Homo sapiens: one gene and its partner. The protein of the gene in region 2 interacts with the protein of the main gene of each other region in a pairwise test. Each region holds a gene or a part of one and is shown on either strand. Other genes may lie near its edges.

The links. Proteins that work in one complex are often made in the same cells at the same time.
Region 1: the proteins of FBXL17 (region 2) and ZMYM2 interact in a two-hybrid assay, tested with the Homo sapiens proteins (one large-scale study listed by BioGRID).

The regions. Positions count from the first base shown.
Region 1 is NC_000013.11:19,965,227-19,968,726, forward strand, and holds part of ZMYM2 (zinc finger MYM-type protein 2), read left to right. Parts: coding exon of another isoform or gene 1-55; intron 56-3,062; exon of another isoform or gene 3,063-3,176; intron 3,177-3,500. UniProt on the Homo sapiens protein: Involved in the negative regulation of transcription.
Region 2 is NC_000005.10:108,372,099-108,375,598, reverse strand, and holds part of FBXL17 (F-box/LRR-repeat protein 17), read left to right. Parts: intron 1-3,500. UniProt on the Homo sapiens protein: Substrate-recognition component of the SCF(FBXL17) E3 ubiquitin ligase complex, a key component of a quality control pathway required to ensure functional dimerization of BTB domain-containing proteins (dimerization quality control, DQC).

The sequences.
Region 1 (3,500 bases), on a different chromosome or scaffold from region 2:
TGTGTATATTACTCTCTGCCGTAGTCACCTGGATACCATCTCTGGACTTACTAGTGTAAGAATTGACAACTAAATTTTTGGGTTTTGTTACTTAACATTAAAAAATGACTTCTCTTCTAATACTGGAACAGTTTTATAATCATTCATTTCAAAGAGGTATGTCTTTTTCCTAGGAAGAATAGTGTTTCTTGGAATATCAAGTTGGACTAGACAGAGTGTTCAGGGTAATAATCAGGGGACTGATTTAACAAATTGGATATTACAACACCTGTTATATATTAGATAGTCATAAAATATGTGTTCTGTTAATTATGGGCTAGCAGTTTCTTTGGCTCTGCTTGGAAGAGCATTTCATCTAGACTTAGTGAATTGTGTTTCTAGTTCTATAGAACTAAGGAAAGGTTTGGGTGGAAGTGAAAATATAAGTTAAATGAAAATTTTATTTTATCCTCCTGTTTAGATTTGTACTTTTTTTCGTTCCAGGCTTGTCATATCTTATTTTAATCATTTTAATTATTTCTGGCCCTGATATGGTATCTGAATTCTTTTTTTTTTTTTTTTTTTTGAGACGGAGTCTTGCTGTGTTGCCTAGACCAGAGTGCAATGGCATGATCTCAGCTCACTGCAACCTCCGCCTCCTGGGTTCAACTTGAAGCAATTCTCCTGCCTCAGCCTCCTGTGTAGCTGGGATTACAAGTGTGCACCACCACACCTGGCTAATTTTTGTATTTTTAATAGAGACAGGGTTTCACCGTGTTGGCCAGCTGGTTTTGAACTCCTGAACTCAGGTGATCCACCTGCCTGGGCCTCCCAAAGTGCTGGGATTACAGGTGTGAGCCACCGCACCAGGCCTGAATTCTTATATATTTATAATTCTATATTTGCTTGTTTTTTTTTTTGTTTTTGTTTTGTTTTGTTTTGTTTTGAGACAGAGTTTCTCTCTTGTTGCCCAGGCTGGAGTGCAATGGTGCAATCTCGGCTCAACGCAACCTCCGCCTCCCGGGTTCAAGTGATTCTCCTGCCTCAGCCTCCTGAGTAGCTTGGATTGCAGGCATGAGCCGCCACGCCTGGCTAATTTTGTATTTTTAGTAGAGATGGGGTTTCTACATGTTGGTGAGGCTGGTCTTGAACTCCCGACCTCAGGTTATCTACCTGCCTAAGCCTCCCAAAGTGCTGGGATTACAGATGTGAACCACTGCACCAGGCCTGAATTCTTATATGTCTATAATTCTTTTTTTTTTTTTGGATACAGAGTTTTGCTCTTGTTGCCTAGGTTGGAGTGCAATGGTGTGATCAGGGCTCACCGCAGCCCCTACCTCCTGGTTTCAAGCGTTTCTCCTGCGTAGCTGGGATTACAGGCATGTGCCACCACGCCGGGCTGATTTTGTATTTTTAGTATAGACGGGGTTTCTCCATGTTGGTCAGCCTGGTCTTGAACTCCTGACCTCAGGTGATCTGCCTGCCTTGGCCTCCCAAAGTGCTGGGATTATGGTCGTGAGCCACCGCGCCCAGCCTGCTTGTTTTTTTACCTAAAGAAAAATTTGCACTTGTTTTAATTAGTTATAGGAAAATCATGATTATAAAATTTAACAAGTTTTAGCTTTATAACTTTACTATGAATATTGTCTCACTTTATTTTGATTTTTGTCTGTCTTATTATTGTATAGTCCTGTTTCTTAGCCAAATAAGTGTTAACTCCTGCCTAGGAAGTCATTCCATCCTATGTCTCTGTACGGTTTTACATTGCTTATGGAAGAGAAGCTTCTGTTCCAGTTAGTCTCTCTTCCATGACACAGACTCCTGACTTCTGTTATTTCATGTTTTCTTTATTTGTATATCACATTTTCCTTTTTCAAGGACCTTACTCTTCTGTTTTCATTCAGTCTTCCTCCTGGACTTACCTGTTCATTTGTCTTTCCTTTTCCTAACTCCTTTTGCTTTTTTTAAAAAAAGAGCACAGTATCTGTAATAGCATCCTATATAAAAGTCTGATTATACTGTCCTTTTAGGGGGTATGTTTCCAAATTACAGTAAACTCGTGAATTTGGTGAGATCATGATATGTGAGTATGGTTCTAGAGATATATGAGGGCCTCACATGGAAAGGGAACTAGTGAGTACTAAGAGAAGATTGGAAGGGTAACGACTTAATTTTGCAGATTTTCTGCCAAAAAAAGCCATTTTTCTCATTGTAGCATGACATGAGTTGGAGTCATACAGATTCAGGCTTAAATCTGCCCTGCTCATGAAGGGAGTTTTGGGGTGATAGAGTGTTATATAAAACTGGATTGTGGTGATTGTTGCAGAAGTATATACATTTAATACATTTATCAAATCTTTCACTTAAAATAAGTAAATTTTACTACACGTACATTATGCTTTAATATAACTATTAAAAACAATTTTGCTCCAGTATTTACCAGTTTGCGATATCAGGCAAGTCATGTAACATCTGAGCTGTAGTTCAGTCAGTTAACAAATGAGTATGGTAATGCCTGGTTTCCTGAGATTGTTGAGGTGAGGACTAAAAATAATACAGGGTATGCAGCTGGCCAATAGTAGGTGCTCAGTTAATAGCAGCTGCAATTCTTAAACTGTCTGTTTATATGGACCAAACATAATGAATTTGCTGCCACCACCTGGTATGGTAAACTTAGTGTGTGCTTATCTGGTAATGACTAGAAGAATTTCTATGTTTCTCTTCACCGACTTCCCTCTTCTGGCTTTTTCATTAGTCTGCAGTGCTTTATCCTCCATCGAGATAAAAATGCTTTATCCTCCAGAATCTCTGCATCTTTTTCTAACGATTTCTTCTTTTCCCTATACTTTTAGAAAGAAATCCACTGTCTGATCTGCACTGTCAACACTATAACAAATCTCTTCTGAGGTCGCTAGTGACCTAATTGCCAAATCTTTTAACTGCTTCTTTTTGTCTTAATTCTGTAACATTTAAAATTTTTGCTTCTGGGGCTTAATGTGGTCTCATAGTTATGACCACCTCCTTCACTTCCCCTCGCTAGACTTTCCTTTTTTTGAGCCAGAGTTTTGCTCTTCTTGCTCAAGCTGGAGCGCAATGGTGTGATCTCGGTCCACTGCAACCTCCGCCTCCCGGGTTCAAGCGATTCTCCTGCCTCAACCTCCCGAGTAGCTGGGACTACAGGTGCACTGGGATTACAGGTGCGCGCCACTGTCCCTGGCTAATTTTTTTGTATTTTTAGTAGAAATGGGGTTTAACCATGTTAGCTAGGCTGGTCTCGAACTCCTGACCTCAGGTGATCTGCCCACCTTGGCCTCCCAAAGTGCTGGGATTACAGGCGTGAGCCACCGCACCAGACCTCCCCTCACTAGACTAATGTTGAGACCTTTAAGTGTCCTTTACTGTCATCTTTAGCTCTTACTATGCTTTTAACTTTCACCTTAGTCTGTTAGAAAACGGAATTATTTACAAGGCAGTTTCTTCCTATTCTTGACTCCATTGTAGCCAGATTAATTTTTCCTAAA
Region 2 (3,500 bases):
ACTCAGATTTTCTATTTCCTTTGAGTCAGTTTTTATAGTTTATATTCTAGGAATTTGTCATCTATTTCATCAATTTGGTAGCATACAATTATAGTATTCTCTTATAATTGTGTACTTTTTGTAAGGTTGATATTAATGTTCCCATTTTTATACATGATTTTAAAATTTGAGTCTTCTCTCTTTATTCTTAGTCTAGCCAATTTTGTGTGTGTGTGTGTGTGTGTGTGTGTGCAGGGTCTCTGTCACCCAGGCTTGAGTGCAGTGGTGTGATCATAGCTTATAGCTATGTAAATGGAAGTGCAGCCTTAAACTCCTGGGCTCAAGTGACTTTCCCTCTTGTCAGCCTCCTGAGTAGCTGGGTGCACAGGCATGCTGGCGCATGCCTGGTTAATTTCTTAAATAATTTTTGTAGAGACAGGGTCTTGCTATGTTTTCCAGGCTGGTCTCAAACTCCTGGCTTCAAGCAGTCCTCCCACTTTGGCTTCCCAAAGTGCTGGGATTATAGGTGTCAACCATTGTGCTCGGCCTCATCATTTTAAAGAATAAACTTTTGGTTTTGTTGATCATCTATTATTTTTCTAGTCTATATTTCATTTGTATTAGCTGTATTTTTTCCCCCTTGTTTCTGCTTAGTTTGTATTGAGTTTTCTTTTTATAGTTTCTTGAGGTAGAAGTTTAGGTTGCCAATTCAAGATCTTTCTTCTTTTTAAATGTAGTTACTTGTTTCTGTATCCCATAGATTTTGCTATATGTGTTTGTTTTCATTAATTTCAAATTATTTTCTAGTTTTCTTTATGAGTTCTTCTTACTTGTTGATTGTTAAATTTTCATGTATTTGTGAAATTTCCAGATTTCCTCCTGTTAGTGATTTCCCCTCCTCTTTCCTCACCTCCCTTCTCCTCTTCTCTTTTCTTTCATTTTTTGAAACAGAGTCTCACTGTATCACCCAGGCTGGAGTGCAGTGGTGTGATCATGGCTCACTGCAACTTCTGCCTTCTGGGCTCAAGCAATCCTCCCACCTCAGCCTCTCTAGTACCTTGGATTAAAGGTGCACATGCCACCACGCCCGGCTAATTTTTGTATTTTTTGGTAGAGATGGGAGTTTTGCCATGTTGCCCAGGCTGGTCTTAAACCCCTGGGCTCAAGTGATCTGCCTCCCTCGGCCTCCCAAAATGCTGGAATTATAGGCCTGAGCTGCTGTTCCTGGCCTCTGTTACTGATGTCTAATTTCCTTTCATTGTCATTGGAAAAGATACTTTGTATGAGCTTAATATTTTCAAATTTGTTGAGACTTGACTTGTAGTGTAGTATTTTAGACTTTGGTCTTTGAGAATGTTTTTATGCACTTCAGAAGAATGTGTATTCTATTTTGTGTAGTGTTCTAGAGATATCTGATAGGCCATGTTTAAGTCTTGTTCAAGTGTTCAGTTTACTTGTTCATCTCTTGTCTGGTTGTTCTATCCATTATTGAAAGTTGTACGTTGTAGTCTCCAAGCATTAATGCGGAACTCTTTTTGGTTTTTTTCCTTTCAATTCTGTCAGTTTTTGCTATATGTATTGTTCCATGCTTTTACTCTCAATCTGTGTATATTTTTGGATCTAAATTGAGTCTCTTGTAAACAGTATATAATTGGATTGTGTTTTTACATTTTATCCTGTTATTCATTGTGTCTTTCTTTTTGAGACAGGGTCTCAGTCTGTTGTCCAGGCTGGAATGCAGTGGCACGATCACAACTCACTGCAGCCTCGACCTCCTGGGCTCAAGCTATTCTCCAACCTCAGCCTCCCATGTAGCTGAGACCATAGGTGCATACCACTATGGCTGGCTAATTTTGTCATTTTTTTTGTGGAGACAGGGTCTTGCCATGTTGCCCAGGCTGGTCTTGAACTCCTGGGCTCAAGTGATCCACTCAACACAGCCTCCCAAAAGTGCTGGGATTGCAGGTGTGAACCACTGTGCCTGGCCCTGGCCTTATGTGTCTTAACTGGAAAGTTTAGCCCATTTACATTTAGTGTAATTAGTGATAAGGAAATACATTTACTATTTTATTATTTGTTTTCTCTATGTCTTATATATTTTTTGTTTGTCAATTCCTCTGATGCTGTTCTTTGTGTCAGATATTTTCTAGTGTACCATTTTGATCCCCTTCTCATATATACATATAATTCTCACATTATATAAATAAATATAACATATCTAAATATATTAATATATTTAGATATATATTTATATTAATATATATTTAGATATATTATATTTAGATATATATTAATAAAAATTTAATATATTTAGATATATATTATATTTATATTAATATATTTAGATATATATTATATTTATATTAATATATTTAGATATATATTATATTTATATTAATATAATATATTTAGATATGTTATATTTATGTAATGTGAGAATATGTATATATGAGAATTATATATATAAATAAAATATAGTAAATAATTATGTGTGTATTTCTTAGTATTTACCCTGGGGGTTATAATTAACACTATATATTATAACAATTTAGTTTGAATTAATACCAGTTTAGTTTCAGTGGTATATAAAAACTTTGCTCCTGTATTTGTTGTTATTGTCACAAGTTACAGCTTTATGAATTTTGTGCCAATCAATATAGATTCATAATTACTGTTTTATGTAGTCTTTTAAATCATATAGCAAAGAGGAGGCATTGCAAACCAAAGACACAGTAATATGCACTTTTATATTTACCTATGTAAATACCAACAATTACTGGTATCCTTTAGTTCATATGTGATTTTAAGCCACTGTCTGATCCCCTTACATTTCAGCCTGATGGACTCTTTATAGTATTTCTTTTAGGGGAAGTTTACCAGTGACAAACTTCCTCAGTTTTTGTTTATCTGGAAATATCTTAATTTTGCCTTTATTTTTAAAGGGTTGTTTTACCAGATAGAGGATTCTTGGTTGACAGTTTCCTTTCAGCATTTTGAATATGTTATCCCACTGCCTTCTGGTCTCCATGGTTTCCAGTGAAAAATCAGTTGTTGATTGTATTGAGTGTCCTTTTCACGAGTTGCATTTTTCTTGCTGCTTTCAGGGTTCTCTCGGTTTTTGTCTTTCAACAATTTGATTATGATGCATCTTGATATGAATCCTTTTGCATTTATCCTGCTTGGAATTCATTGAGTTTATGAGCTAGATTCATGCCTTTCATCAGATTTGGAAAGTTTTAGCCATTATTTCTTCAAATATTTAGGCCTCTTTCACTCTCTTTTCCTTCTGTGCCTCCAATTATATGTATATTAGTATGTTTGGTGGGGTTCCACATGTATGTTCATTTTCCTTCAGTCCACAGACTCAGTAATTTTAATTTACCTATCTTTAGGTTTGCTGATTCTTTCTTCTTGTAGAGGTTCAAGGGATTTTGATGTTTCTCAAGAAAGAGATATGATTATAAGAAGTGGTAACACACAACAAGCTTCATTTGGTGGCACTTGGACAGGATTATATGAGA